Linked DNA regions of Homo sapiens. The protein of the gene in region 1 purifies or fractionates together with the protein of each later gene. This does not show direct contact. Each region holds a gene or a part of one and is shown on either strand. Other genes may lie near its edges.

What was found. The genes of interacting proteins can lie anywhere in the genome.
Region 2: the proteins of GPR88 (region 1) and SLC39A10 purify together in Homo sapiens (affinity purification with mass spectrometry; one large-scale study listed by BioGRID and IntAct). This does not show direct contact.
Region 3: the proteins of GPR88 (region 1) and CNNM1 purify together in Homo sapiens (affinity purification with mass spectrometry; one large-scale study listed by BioGRID and IntAct). This does not show direct contact.
Region 4: the proteins of GPR88 (region 1) and MFSD8 purify together in Homo sapiens (affinity purification with mass spectrometry; one large-scale study listed by BioGRID and IntAct). This does not show direct contact.

Annotation. Positions count from the first base shown.
Region 1 is NC_000001.11:100,536,552-100,541,177, forward strand, and holds the start of GPR88 (G protein-coupled receptor 88), read left to right. Parts: upstream 1-1,587; 5' UTR 1,588-1,951; intron 1,952-2,342; 5' UTR 2,343-2,415; coding exon 2,416-3,570; 3' UTR 3,571-4,626. UniProt on the Homo sapiens protein: Orphan G protein-coupled receptor implicated in a large repertoire of behavioral responses that engage motor activities, spatial learning, and emotional processing. May play a role in the regulation of cognitive and motor function.
Region 2 is NC_000002.12:195,733,474-195,737,225, reverse strand, and holds part of SLC39A10 (zinc transporter ZIP10 precursor), read right to left. Parts: intron 2,344-3,752; coding exon 2,185-2,343; 3' UTR 1-2,184. UniProt on the Homo sapiens protein: Zinc-influx transporter. When associated with SLC39A6, the heterodimer formed by SLC39A10 and SLC39A6 mediates cellular zinc uptake to trigger cells to undergo epithelial-to-mesenchymal transition (EMT).
Region 3 is NC_000010.11:99,381,104-99,384,855, forward strand, and holds part of CNNM1 (metal transporter CNNM1), read left to right. Parts: intron 1-3,752. UniProt on the Homo sapiens protein: Probable metal transporter.
Region 4 is NC_000004.12:127,917,305-127,920,425, forward strand, and holds the end of MFSD8 (major facilitator superfamily domain-containing protein 8), read right to left. Parts: 3' UTR 501-3,121; downstream 1-500. UniProt on the Homo sapiens protein: Outward-rectifying chloride channel involved in endolysosomal chloride homeostasis, membrane fusion and function. Conducts chloride currents up to hundreds of picoamperes.

The DNA of each region.
Region 1 (4,626 bases):
ACTGCAATGCATGTTAGATAGAAGAGGTATATGCCATGTGTCATAATTAGAGAGAAGAAATGCTAAATTCATGAATAGGGATTCACAGAAAGTTTTAACAGAAAGGGCCTTTGAAGTGACTGACTGTGAACTTATTTGACAAGATGAAAATAATCCATCGCAAGGCTACATGATGGATGCTCGGCTTAGTATCTGGGTGTGCTGCAACCCCACCTAACATTTTTTTCTATTATGCCATGTTACCATATTCCCATATTGAGTTACATTTTCAAATACATGACTTTTCCAGTGAATAATTGAGAGAACTCCTTTTCTGAAAAAATTCCCACATGGAATGGATAAATGAACACTTGCACCAAAGAAGATGCCAACATCAGACTGCAAATCTCCAAGACAGACAAGACAAAAAGTTCTGAAGTGAAAAGTCATCTTTGTTCACACTGTGGATTATTCAGGTTTCTTGCTTTCCCCCTGACACACATTTTTTTAAAATTGACTTTATTTTTTTAGAGCAATTTTAGATTCATGGCAAATTTGAGTGAAAGATACAGAGATTTCCCATGTACTCCCTGCCCCTCGCATACATAGCCTCTCCCATTATCAAAATCCCCCACCAGAGTGGTTCGTCTGTTACAATTGAATGTACGTTGACACATCATTCCCCAAAGTCCATGGCTTACACTGATGTTTCACATTCTGCCACTTTGGGCAAATTTATAAGTACACAGATCCACTATTATGGTATCATACAGAGTAGTTCCACTGTCCTAAGAATCTTCCGTGATCATCTATTCATTCCTCCTTTCCCCCTAACTCGGGCAACCACTGGTCTTTTTAACTGTCTCCATAGTTTTGCCTTCTCAAGAATGTCATAGTTGGTAGCATACAGTATGTAGTCCTTTCCAGTTGGCTTCTGTCACTTAGTGATACACACTTAAGGTTCCTTCATGTCTTTTCATGGCTGGACAGCTCATTTCTTTTTAGCACTGAATAATATTCCATTGTCTAGATGTACCACTGACATCTGCTTTAAATCTTTTGCCCATTTCATTTTTACCCTCTAACCATTTCATTACTAAAACACAAAACAAACTCCGGAAAGGAGTTTGTTGATGAGAAAACACTGAAAGTACGATTTAAATTGAGGAATGGAGATTTTCTGTGGATAATTGTCTATGTTCCACTTTACCAAAGAAAAATGAATTTCAAGTAGTGCATAAAGTAATTCTCGTTAAAAAATGTGGGAATAAAGAGATCAGTCCTGGGTACTGGGAATATATTTATCTCACAGAAAAATCTTGCCCACAAAATGCATCAGACTGAGATGAAATACTCTAGGGTATATTAAATTTTATTCTAATATTGAAGGGAGGGAAAAAAAGGACGGAAAGAAAAATGAAACAGGATGAAAAATAAGGTGATTGGGAGAGAGAAAAGACAGAGAAACTTGTTAACGACAGGACTTTCTGAGCAAGATATTTTTCTTCCTTTTACAAGTTGGAAGCTATTGAATAATTCATGCCAAGCGTGGAAAGGCTGTCTTTTCCCTGGATGATGTATAACTAAGCAGGAGAGAGCTTCGAGTGGGTTCACCACATCAGCCACCACTCCTGCTTCTGAGCACAGGGTGCTCTCCTCTTGAGCTCAGCTTCTGCTTTTGCAGCCAAGCATTCTTGCTGCTGCTGCCTGCCTGCCCACCCGCCTGGGCTTGCAGCCCGCCACTTTACTTTCTCCAGCCCTGATACCAGCTGAGAAGTCTCCCTGCAGCTGCTAGTTCCTGCCCAGGACCATGTGTGTGGATGCTGCTTGGGAGAAGCGGGCACTTGCTCCTGGCACTGATCCCAGCTGAGTTTCTCCTGTTGATTTCTGGACCACTGATGCTGTTGCTGAGGAGGTATTTCCCGGCATCCCTCCCCCTGAGACACCGGCTAAGGACCAGCCTAAACGCAAGGTAACCTTCACCTCTTTCCCATGGGATTTTCCCCAGCTGGGATATCTCTGCTTTCTCCTGGAACTAGGTCCTCCAGCTGGCAACATATCTCTCTCTCTCTCTCTCTCTCTCTCTCTCTCTCTCTCTCTGTGTGTGTGTGTGTGTGTTGGGGGAGAAGAGGAGACTGTTTTAGGTATTGCTCTGTCCTAGGGCTTCCCCGATACCTGCTGAATCCAATGCAAAGTGGCCTTTCCCCTGGCTCTGGAGACATTTCCGAGGCAGGCACCTGTCATCTGCCACCCCCGTCCTCCTCCTCGAGCTCCCTTTCTCCCCCTCCCCCAGCCCATTATTCTGCTTCAGCCTTTTGTGTCAGTGGCAGAGGGCTGAAGGGATGTCTTTGCCCTTCTGGCAGGCAGGACAGTGTCAGGATGGACCGCGCTGCCAGAAGCCGACGCTAGCGAGGGAGGTGTGAAGAGTTGGCCAGAATGACCAACTCCTCCTCCACATCCACCTCCTCCACCACCGGTGGCTCGCTGCTGCTGCTCTGCGAGGAAGAGGAGTCGTGGGCGGGCCGGCGCATCCCGGTGTCACTCCTGTATTCGGGCCTGGCCATCGGGGGCACGCTGGCCAACGGCATGGTCATCTATCTCGTGTCGTCCTTCCGAAAGCTGCAGACCACCAGCAACGCCTTCATCGTGAACGGCTGCGCCGCCGACCTCAGCGTCTGCGCCCTCTGGATGCCGCAGGAGGCGGTGCTCGGGCTCCTGCCCACCGGCTCTGCGGAGCCCCCCGCAGACTGGGACGGCGCTGGGGGCAGCTACCGCCTGCTACGGGGTGGGCTGCTGGGCCTCGGACTCACGGTGTCCCTCCTCTCCCACTGCCTCGTGGCCCTGAACCGCTACCTGCTCATCACCCGGGCGCCCGCCACCTACCAGGCGCTGTACCAGAGGCGCCACACGGCGGGCATGCTGGCGCTGTCCTGGGCGCTCGCCCTGGGCCTCGTGCTGCTGCTCCCGCCCTGGGCACCGCGGCCCGGCGCCGCGCCACCGCGAGTCCACTACCCGGCGCTGCTGGCCGCCGCGGCGCTGCTGGCGCAGACAGCTCTGCTGCTGCACTGCTACCTGGGCATCGTGCGCCGCGTGCGTGTCAGCGTCAAGCGGGTCAGCGTGCTCAACTTCCACCTGCTGCACCAGTTGCCCGGCTGCGCCGCCGCCGCCGCCGCCTTCCCGGGCGCCCAGCACGCGCCGGGCCCCGGTGGCGCCGCGCACCCGGCGCAGGCCCAGCCCCTGCCGCCCGCGCTGCACCCGCGGCGGGCACAGCGGCGTCTCAGCGGCCTGTCGGTGCTGCTGCTCTGCTGCGTCTTCCTGCTGGCCACGCAGCCACTGGTGTGGGTGAGCCTGGCCAGCGGCTTCTCGCTGCCGGTGCCCTGGGGAGTGCAGGCGGCCAGCTGGCTCCTGTGCTGCGCCCTGTCCGCGCTCAATCCGCTGCTCTACACGTGGAGGAACGAGGAGTTCCGCCGCTCCGTGCGCTCAGTCCTGCCGGGCGTCGGCGACGCGGCGGCCGCTGCCGTTGCCGCCACAGCCGTGCCCGCAGTGTCCCAGGCGCAACTGGGCACCCGCGCCGCGGGCCAGCACTGGTAACCTAGCCGGGGCCCGAGGGAAGCGGAGATCCCCGGCTTCCGACGTCCTTGGGCACCGTCGCCTCCTTCCCTCCTAGGGCATCCCCTGCCTGAACGAAGACTTCCGCCGCGAAGCCCGATAGATCGGGGGAAAATGGGGCCTTCGACCCCAGCGGGCTACCTGAACCAAGGCGTCTCTTTAAGTGGGGCGCCCGAAGTCATTTTGGACGGCCACCTGATTTTTACCCTTTGTTTCTGTGTTTTAGAGGAATCCTAAAGTCAAAACACCAGAGACTTGAAGAACTTGCAAACTGGCGTTTTAAAATAACCGGTTAATTTATTTCCACACAGTTTGTTTTTGAAAAAGAGCTTTCATAATGTATAACCCTTTCCACTTTCATCGTCTTATATATGAAGCGCCTTGAGTGTGCATGAACCAAAGGAAATAACATTGAAGAAGGAAAACAATATGTAGAAAGTATTTTAGAAAGTAACCTGTCTTTGATGATGCTTCTCTTACCATTTAGTTTTTGTATATTACCCTGGGGCAGTGAAGCCCTAGGTGTGCCCACCAGTATGAGTTGCCATTAAGACCTCAAGCCCTTTATTCTTAAAAGGGTTTTTAATAAAGTCTTTCTCAAATGAGGTAGAATCTTAGCCAGTGAGAAAAAAAATTATTTTATGCTCCTTTTTTTTCGCACTCTTAAGACTGAAAATTGGCGTTGAGTGTTATAGTGAAAATTTTCCAGTTTGATAATTGATGGTCAGAGCCAGCACTGGAATTTTGAAAACAAATAAGGTGATTATCTATTTTAGGTACCGTTTCACATTTTCTATAGCATGCACACTTGTTGCTACCCTCATTTTGTAACCAATTTATTTGCCTTATGAATGTGATTGCAGCTTTGAACATTCTGTACTATAATGGTTGCTAAGAAGAATAAGTCCTTCTGTTTTCTCTTTAACATTTAAAATATCTCAATGCACATGATATAATTAAACACTAATAATACCATGACTGCATAGCTAATATTAGCTGCTATTGCATGCTCCTAGATGCTAGAACTTATTGGGCATG
Region 2 (3,752 bases), on another chromosome or scaffold:
TTGTCTATTAAGACTTGAAACTATACATTAGAATGATGTGGAACCCTAATACTAGCAGCAACTGTTACAGCCCTCTTAAAAGATTTGTAAGAATCTAGCAAATAAAGAAAGATAATACCATTTTTGAGAGAATATAAAACTTCTTTATATACTTCAGCATAACCTACTTGCTTTAAATCAATCAGGCATTTATTTTAAAACTGGGAGTATATTCCAGCTATTGCTTTTATAAAGGTTCTAAAATGAAGCAGATTTAATGCTGGAATGCAGAATCCTACCGTGGGTATAAAAACCCAAAAGTGAACTATAAATATATCTTGGTTCAGAAATCTAGATAGATAGATATCTAAATCACTTGAAGTTGGCAGTACTAAATAAAATATCAGCACCTTTTAGCTAGGTTGCTTGAAGGGCCAAGCAATGAGATGAGGACTGTCCTAATTCAGTGCCCAATGCTGAAAATTAATTATATATAAAACTTCTACTTATTATAAGGAGGCCATGGAGTAAGTCAGAAATAATTTTTCAGATTCAAGCATAAATTAAAGAAATAACACCTAAGCTCCCTTGCTTATAGCATACAGAAAAGACACTGGCAATAATCTATAAATACCTGGATGCATGTGCTGCTCTCAAAGTTTTGTTTTTGTTTTGAAGTTCATAGAGTAGGAGGAAAGAAGAGTACTAAATGAAAACATTTTAGATGGAATGGAAAAGAGTTTGGCTCTTATATATTTGAACAATAAGATAGATTGTTACAGCAGCTACACTGGTTGCCAAGCAGATTAAAACAAAGCTAGCTGCACATAGTTCAAATACAGTTTACCTGGCATAAATGAAGACCATGTGGCATAGGATGTAAACAGAAAGCTACATGCATATGACTAGTAATACAAATTATTAAGTAAAAATTCAGGATAAACATGGCTTGCACTTCTCACAAATCATTCACAATTATGGTAGGAGAACAGGGCACCTAAAAGACTAATCCCTATCAGGCACCAACAGCATATCTTGGCACAAGATGATCAAGTGATTTCAGCTGAGTAATTTAAATGCATCTTCCAAGTCACTTGGGTACCATGACAGCCATGGCAATAATGGAGTTTATCCTAGTAACTGTTCTAAATTGACACTTCATGTACACATTACAGACATGGTAAACTTCGATTTTCTGCTTTACAACCTTGTAGCCAGCCACGACATGTGCTCTTGGTTCCAGTGCCAAACTGGTAAAGCAATGTGAACATTCAGAACTTACATTTCCCAATTAACTAGTTGGTACTGTTAAAATAGGAAAATCAACTATTTAAACCACGTCTGGTTCATTTCTTTGATATTTTCTAGAGGGTTACAATTTTTTAAAAAGACCACATGCTCCAAACCCTCACCTACCCCCGCCAAAAAAAAAAAAAAAAAATCAAAACAAAATTAAAGTAAAAAACAAAACAGAAAGAACACCCCAACACCAAGTATTATAATAATACAAAGAACCATTATGAATCTTTCATTAAACTGAAGCTCACACAAACATACAATCACAAATTTCAGTAGTTTAGGCTGCAGGTTTAAACACTATGCAAATATATACAAAAATAGTAACTCTAGATTCAAGAATAAGGGCTTTTCCCAATGCTAAATTCATACTCTAATGCAGCCTGAGCTTTCCTCTAGTTCCTATGTCTACTTTATGCAGTTTCAAAGTTGTGTCAAGTTGATCCCTATCACCACATGAATATATGTAGCTGAATTAAAGAGCACTACAATTCATTCTTAAAACACACAAAAAATGTCTCCCCAAAGTCCATTTAAAATATTTTTAAAGTTTAAATGATTTTTTTTGGTTCGATCTCTATTTCTGCATAGCCACAGAAGTTTCTACTAATAAAGAGACTAGTGTTTTATATGATTATTTTGTGAAAAGTCTTAATCAAACATATCAACACTGGTTCATGGAGTCCCATATTCTCCTCTCTTTATCACAAGCTTTATATTTTTAAAAGACCCCTACGTGCAGGGAAAACAGTACTAAGCACCAGCCTCTTGTGGTTAGGCTCAAATCTATGAAACTTGTAAGTAGTGCAAGCCACTGACTTTCCTTTGAGCAATGTGCATACAGTACAAGGAACAGATGCAAAGCTGCATGGTAACATTCTCGTAATCAACAGTGATTACTGGGAAAGGTCAAAACTGGATGTCAAACACAATTTTATCTTCATAGAGGGCAATCACCAGCATAATGGCAAATCCAAAGAGCAATCCTAAATTCTGAAGGATGAATTGCCCCACAGGACAAAAGCCATGTTCTTCATTGTCACCATCACCATGCAACATTTCTGGAAGCTAGAAAAATAAATCTTCACATTAAACTTTGTATAATACTTCTGCTCAAAACAGTTTTTAAAAACATTTTCCTACTTAAGAAAATTAGTGACTGAAGTGTAACTACAGACAAAATAATTATTTTATTGAACACAATGCTACCCACCAGATGTATTTTAGTCAAATACTGAAGAAATTTTATGCTTTTGCTAGGAAATACTAACTCTGTTCCCTCCTCCTCATCCCCCACAACAAACACTTAAAATATGCACATTAGTCATTTTTCAAACAGTTACTATCCACTGACCTTATAAATTCTGACATTTTACTTTATGCTAAAGCATAAAGCAACTTATTACCAATAAGACACTCCAAAAACCGATCACCACAATTCCCACATTTACTAATGTATCTTAAACTCAATAAGAAAGCAAGATTCTTGGGCCGGGCACGGTGGCTCACGCCCATAAATCCCAGCACTTTGGAAGGCCGAGGTGGGCGGATCATGGGGTCAGGAGTTCAAGACCAGCCTGGCCAATATGGTGAAACCCATAAAAATACAAAAATTAGCTGGGCGTGGTGGGGCACGCTTGTAGTCCCAGCTACTCGGGAGGCTGAGGCAGGAGAATCATTTGAACCTGGGAGGCAAAGGTTGCAGTGAGCTGAGATCACACCACTGCACTCCAGCCTGGGCAACAGAGCAAAACTCCATCTCAAAAAAACTTTTTTTTTTTTTTTTTTTTTAAAAAAAAAGGAAGATTCTTTTGGGAAATGGCCTAATTCAAAATGGTTTCACTTCTTCACTCTTTTCCACTTGAAATTCTTATTTCCCACTGCTCATGACAGCAAAGAGATACTTGGGGACAAATCCAAATTGGCATCTCTATGCCCTTATGCCATTGCTTTCATTCCAATAACAGACACAGAAAACAACCTAGCAGAGCTATCCAGCATAACTAGTACCAAGTCATGCACACTGCCCTCACAGTGTATTCTCTTAATATTGTTAAAATTTCAAAATTCTGAAAATTATCACATCTTTGAAGGCACAGTGCTTTGAAAAGTTTATATATGGCTGGGCGTTGTGGCTCATGCCTGTAATCCCAGCAGTTTTGAGAGGCCGAGGCGGGCAGATCAACTGAGGTCGGGAGTTTGAGACCAGCCTGAACAACATAGAGTAACTCCGTCTCTATTAAAAATACAAAATCAGCTGGGCATGGTGGTGCATGCCTGTAATCCCAGCTACTCAGGAGGCTGAGGCAGGAGAACTGCTTGAACCCAGGAGGCGGAGGTTGCGGTGAGCCAAGATTGCGCCACTGTACTCCGTCCTGGGCAACAAGAGCAAAACTCCGTCTCAAAAAAAAAAGAAAAGAAAAGTTTATATACTTAATTTCTAAAGCATACCACATACTATTACATCTAAGAATAAT
Region 3 (3,752 bases), on another chromosome or scaffold:
GGTGGAAACCAATTAAGTGTTATTCAACCAGGTGCAGCAGCTCACGCCTGTAATCCCAGCACTTTGGGAGGCTGAGGTGGGCAGATCACCTGAGGTCAGGAGTTTCAGACCAGCCTGGCCAACGTGGTGAAACCCTGTCTCTACTAAAAATACAAGAAAAATTAGCCAGGCATGGTGGTGGGCATCTGTAATCCCAGCTATTCAGGAGGCTGAGGCAGGAGAATCGCTTCAACCCAGGACACGGAGGTTGTAGTGAGCCGAGGCCATTGCACTCCACCTGAGCGGCAAGAGTGAGACTCTGTCTTCAAAAAAAAAAAAAAAAGGAAAAAAAAGAGTGTTATTCAAAAACCTCTTTAGGCCAGGCGCGGTGGCTCACACCTGTAATCCCAGCACTTTGGGAGGCTGAGGCAGGCAGATCACTTGAGGTCAGGAGTTCAAGACCACTCTGGCCAACATGGCGAAACCCCATCTCTACTAAAAATAAAAAAATTACCCAGTCATGGTGGCAGGCACCTGTAATCCCAGCTACTCGGGAGGCTGAGGCAGGAGAATTGCTTGAACCCAGGAGGCGGAGGTTGCGGTGAGCCGAGATCGGCGCCACTGCACTCCAGCCTGGGCGACAAGAGCGAAACTCCGTCTCAAAAAAAAAAACCAAAAAACAAAAAAAAAACTTTGATTAAAATGGGTAGTTCTCCAAAAAGGAATTCTGTGAGTTCAAGCTCTTTTTTTTAACACAAGTGTCTTTTTTGTTTTGATTTTCTCTTTTCTTTTTTTTTTAATATAAGATTCTGCCTTAGATTAACTTTGAAAATTACCTCCTCCTGATTGATTAGACTGTGTTAGGGACGTTATTTAGGCCACTCATTTATCTACTTCCCTCACCTGTCTCTCCCCATCTTTCCTTCTGTTGTTATTGTGTTTTTTAACATGAGGGTTTTGGGGGAAGCTAAAGAGAAGACTGCAAGATGAGTGTTTTCACAGGGCGAAGCCCCTGTGGTTGGCTGCTGGAAGGTTTCTCAAGGGCTTTTTATATCCAACAGACTGAAGGTCCAGAATTAAGTCCAGGAGTAATTGAACTTCAAGATAAGTTACAAAATGAGATAGAAAGGTGCATCTAATAGTTATCTGGGAAAGGTGTTAAACAAAGCCATGATTAATGGTAGTTAATAAGTTATGAAGGTACCAAAGAATTCTTATGAAGTAAGTTTTTTGAAATGTGTTCTGTGTCATCATTAAGCTAAGACTACTTGGCAGATGTCTTACAGTCTGGACTACGTAACCTTGACCAAGATTCCTCATCACCCTAGATTGCAGCATTGTGTCTTCAGGGATGAATAAACCACTTGAAAGTGAAAACAACATCATACCATGATAGGAGGCCAGGTGCAGTGGCTCACACCTGTAATCCCACCACTTTGGGAGGCTGAGACAGGAGAATCACTTGAGGCCAGGAGTGTGAGACCAGCCTGGGCAACAAAGTGAGACCCCCATCTCTATAAAAATAAATTTTTAAATTAGCCAGGCATGGTGGCATGCACTTGTAGTCCCAGCTACTTGGGAGGCTGAGGCAGGAAGATTGCTTAAACCCAGGAGTTCAAGGTTACAGTGAGCTGTGATCATGCCACTGCACTCCAGCCTGCACAGCAGAGTGAGACCCTGTCTCTAAAATAAAATGACAGGAGACATCACATTAGCCTAAAGGTTAACTTCTGGACACCTTGGCTGCTAAGTCAAAAAGTCCAGAAAGCCACCCTTGCTTTTCACTACTTTCAGAATAAACAGACCTCCGCTTCCTTTGTAGCTTAGTGGGTGATTGGATTCTAAACTGGCCACTCTATAAGAGAAGACAATTTGAACTAAAGCTGTTGCTAATAAATGGTTATATCTACTGCAATGAAGAGGAAACAAAAACATGGAGTCTGTTGAAAAGTGGCTTGATTCCCTCAGTCAACTAATTGATAAGTATTTGTTAAGCATTAACAATGGTTCTGGGTGCCATGAGCTATACTACAGAAATATAAATCTAATAAAAATATATCCTCTGCCTTATAAGTAGATTAAGACCAGTTAGAGAGAGGAAGCTTAAGGTAAGTTAAATAATAGTGACCAATGCAGGGTACTATCTAATTCATTACAAAATTATGTGGAATTTTTTTTTGTTTTTTGACGGAGTCTCACTCTGTCCCCCAGGCTGGAGTGCAGTGGCGTGATCTTCTACCTCACTGAGTTCAACTCAGTGAACTCACTGCAACCTCCGCCTCCTGAGTTCAAGCGATTCTCCTGCCTCAGCCTCCTGAGTAGTCAGGATTACAGGCATGCGCCACCACGCCTGGCTAATTTTTGTATTTTTAGTAGAGACAAGGTTTCACCATGTTGGTCAGGCTGATCTCGAACTCCTGACCTTGTGATCCGCCCGCCTCGGCCTCCCAAAGTGCTGGGATTACAGGTGTGAGCCACTATCTGGAATTTTTTAAGCACTAATTGGCTGGAGAATGTACTTTAGGAGTTTGGAAAGAACAAGAGGAGAATTAAGGCAATGCCATGCAAAGGGACACCCTTAAACAGGTATGGAAGGCAAGTAGACATGGCGCATTCGAGGGACTGGGTAGAGAGAGAAGCTGGGTGGGACCAGTGGTTCTGTCCTGGTGAGTAGTGGGAGTGCTGTTGGCCCTGCGAGGCCAGGTCATCGAAACTGGGCACAGCTGTTTAGGCCGTCCACTAAACCTTCACCATCCAGTACAGCAGCCAGTAGCCATGTATAAATACAGCCATTTAGTTACATGTGGCTGTTGAATGCATGAAGTGTGTCTCTTTCCAACTGATGTGCTATAAGTGCAAAATACACATTGTATTTCAAGACCAGTGCGAAAAAGAATGTAAAATTCCTCACTAATCACTTTAACTAATCACATGATGATGTGAAATTATTTTGGATATATTGGGTTAAATGAAATATGTTATTAAAATTAACTTGTTTTTACTTTTTAAAATGTGACTACTAGAAAACTTTGAATTACCGACGGGACTCACGTTACATTTCTCTTCAACAGTATTACGCTAGATTAAAATAAGTTGTCATGAGTTGTTGAACAAGGGGAAGGAACTGACAAGAAGTGATACCCGAACCTAGAAATGCCTCTGGGAGAGGCAGAGCAGAGTTGCTTCCCTGGATACATTGGCACCTTGTCAACAATTTCTTTTAAGGCAACACATTGACATGGCAGGAGTTCATGATTTAAAAAAAAATTTTTTTTAAAAAGAGAGCTGTGTGAAAGAAAGCAAGGCTGTTAAGGCTGTGAGTCACATAGAGGATTTAGCCATTGGGTGGTACCTTTCCTTTTATATAAACACCCACCAACAGTGCAGACCCTCTCCAGCCCCTCCCCCTCCCCACCCTCACTGCCATACACTGCCGTGCTTCTTCCCACTAGTGTGGCCGTCTGAATCTTCTCTTTAGCATCACTGACAAGTGGTGGCTTAACATCTGTGTGAATGCCTCCAATGATGAGGAACTCGGTACCTCACGAGGAAGTGTGTCCCATTCACTCAGTATTGTTACCAAAAATACTTTCTTCCCGTCCTTTCCTCCCTGACAATGCTTAAAAAGAGGGTTAGAGTTCCTGGATCCTTGATTCCAGGTAACAAGAGGGGCTTATCATTGTTTTTTAAAAACAAAAAGAGGCCGGGTGCAGTGGCTAACACCTGTAATCCCAGCACTTTGGGAGGCTGAGGAGGGTGATGTCACCTGAGGT
Region 4 (3,121 bases), on another chromosome or scaffold:
GCATTGTCCCTTTATAGACTCAGCTAAAATTAGGCTTCTTCTCAACCACTATACTCCACCCAACTTGGACCTATTTTTAGTTCTGTGAAAGCTCCAAGATCTTCCCACCTCCAGGGCTTTGTACACACTGCCTTCTGCCTGAAAAGTACTTGTCCCACTCTTCACCAATCCAAATTTTCTCTTCCACTAGGTCTTGGCTAATCATTTCTTCTGGAGAAACATGCCTGACTCTCCTGTTCAGGTCAGGTTCCCTGTTAATCATATTCACCCTCATAGCTCCCTATGCTTCTCTCTCATCACCCCTCCCTCAATCATAATCATCTGTGAAATCATCTTGTGAATATCTGACTTTCTTGCTGGTACATAAGCCTCATGAAGGTCGGAGCTCTGTGTGTTTTGTTTACCGCACAATCCCCCAAATGACATTGTAATTGGCACATAGTGGGTACCCCCTTAAATATGTACTGAAAGACGACTGAATAAAGTTTTAAAGCTTAAGGTACATATGCAAAATAATCTTGTTTATTAGAAAATGAACATTCACAATGTAAAGTAGAAATTAAATTACAAATAAGTCTTCAATGGTCAAAAATGGTGCCCAGAATTTCTTCTCAAAATAAGTTAATCTATTCTTAAACAGATGCAGGTAAGTAGTTTATCCTTGTCAAAACAAAAAATTAACAGATTTCACTTTATGTAAGAGATAAGGTTTATATGAACAAGAAGAGTTTATTTTTAAATGTAAAGCTGAACAAGATAGAATGGAGATGCTTTGTGAAGTTATAAATCCCTTCAAAATATGAAAATCATCCTTTCAAGTTTAAATTTGTTTTCAAAAACATATTTTCTCTTCTTAAATATGTACTACTCTTAACAATATATCATACCTTAAAATCTCCTGTTGTCATTTTCTCTTTATACGCAACTTGGCCTACTCAAGAAGACATCAACATGGTGATTTTTTTTCCTCAAACTTTATCTCCTTGCTCTTTTCCCAATCCCATGTTACTTCCTTTCGCCTTCTTTTGTGCCAAGATGAGCAAGGTATAATCCTCCAAAGAAGAAAATGCTCCAAAGAAAATGCTCTCAATAAAAAGGAAAGTAAGAGTCATTTGTGTAAGGTTAAGTTTATCTAAATTTTAATCAATATTATAAACCTTTGAAAGCTGGGAAACTTTTTTCTGTTATATTCTTGCTGGAAACAGGTTATTATGCTAAGACAAAAGCTCCAGTCAGTGGGCTTATGTTGCCCAAATATTTCTGCTAGTAGGACTCACTGGTATAGTTAAATTACCCTACAATTAGTGATTAATTGAAACTGCAACTTTCTGGGATATTTTCCTCACTATGAAAAATCAAGTGGTTAAGACTGTGGACTTTAAGGATAGACTGTTACTTAGACAAGTAACTTTTCTGTGCCTCCATTCTTTCATCTGTAAAACGGGAATCATAATAGTATTTTCACTCCATAAGACTGCTGTAAGAATTAAATTGTATGTTACACATTACCTGGAATGTGGAAAGCACTCCACAAATTTTGCTCTTATCATTTTCATCATTACCATTATTCTTGTTATTTTTGTCATGCACACTATGCAAACCAAGGGTAGAGTTTACTCTTTAAGATTAGACGTGGCCCAAAAAATGTAAGACAGAGAAAGCAGCTGCAGAATAGCAGGTAAGAGGGATCCCAGACTTGACCAAATAGCCAGAACTGGCTACGGTTCTGAGAAATCTATGGAAGCAGTCTTGCTATGGGCGGCAGAGGAGAGTGAAAACAGTCTTCAAAATTTAATCGTAGAATAATTCTATCAAATTAAGCCCTTTATTAGAGCTGAAAAAATTGAGTTTAAGAGCACAGCTAGTTTAGCATAAAGTGCAGATTATACAGTTTTAAATTTTTGTTTTTATTTTTTGTAAAGACAGGGTCTCACTTTGTTTCCCAGGCTGGTCTTGAATTCCTGGCCTCAAGCAATCCTCCTGCCTTGGCCTTCCAAAGTGCTGGGATTACAGGCATGAGACACTGCACCCAACCTATAAAGTGCAGATTATATAGTGTTTATTCTCAGATTTGAAACTATTTCTAACTTAAAGTAGAAAACATTTGGAAAAGTGTTTAGAAATATTTTTGCATTTTCTTAACAGTGCTTATCAATATACATAGTTATCTACTAGTTCCTTTTATCAGCATTCAACTTATGTAGAGGTAGAAGTTAAACATACAGTGTTATTTAGCCAACTTCAGGTAAACTCAGTAAATTGTTAGATTAAAGCCATTTTGCCTCAAATACTTATTAGCCTGACTAGTTTGGGGCTGTCAGGGATCATCCAAATTAAAAATCCAACTAAAATTCTGCAGCTCTACACAACTATGCAGACATAGATTGAAAACTGTTGTGTTCCTCCCCGCCACTACTGAGAGATGGGAAAAATTAAAGTAAATTAATTAATGTTTTACTAATTAAATGTTTTTCTCCAGTTTAAGGGGGTTGAAAAATAGCAATAATTTTAAGAAACCATTTACTGTTTTGTATATATATATATAAAATAACACATATCTGGATTATGTTTCTAATGTGAATTTTTGGCATTTGAAAGAAAGTAGGTATCCCTATTAGGCTAATAGGCAGTGAAGTATCTTGATCTCTTAATCCTCTGTATTGCTCAAATATTAGCATTATCCATACTCATTTATTAATGTAGGGGTTACTTAGTGAAACCCTGAACTAAAATAAGGCAGAGGTGTAGTATTAGAAGAAAGACTCATAGAAGGCAAGGTAGGATGTTAGGCACGCTAAATGGAAAATATGTGTTATAATTTTTATTTCATAAGTGAACTTGATAATAGAAAATGCATTTTTTTATAAATAAAAAGTAGGTGTCTGAATAAAAATACCTCTACTTGGGTAGAGGTATTTAAAATTCTATAATTTTGTTCTGCTATGGCTAATTCTTACAGAACCCTCTTTCTGGTTCCACTGTATATTATTTTAATGACACTTCTGCAGTGGGTATTAAGAATACAGCTTCACATTTATTCATCATTGTCCATTCACTCATTAGTTCATGCAACCACAAAAAGGTATTATAAGAATAATATTTCATTTCTGAGGTAAGGAAA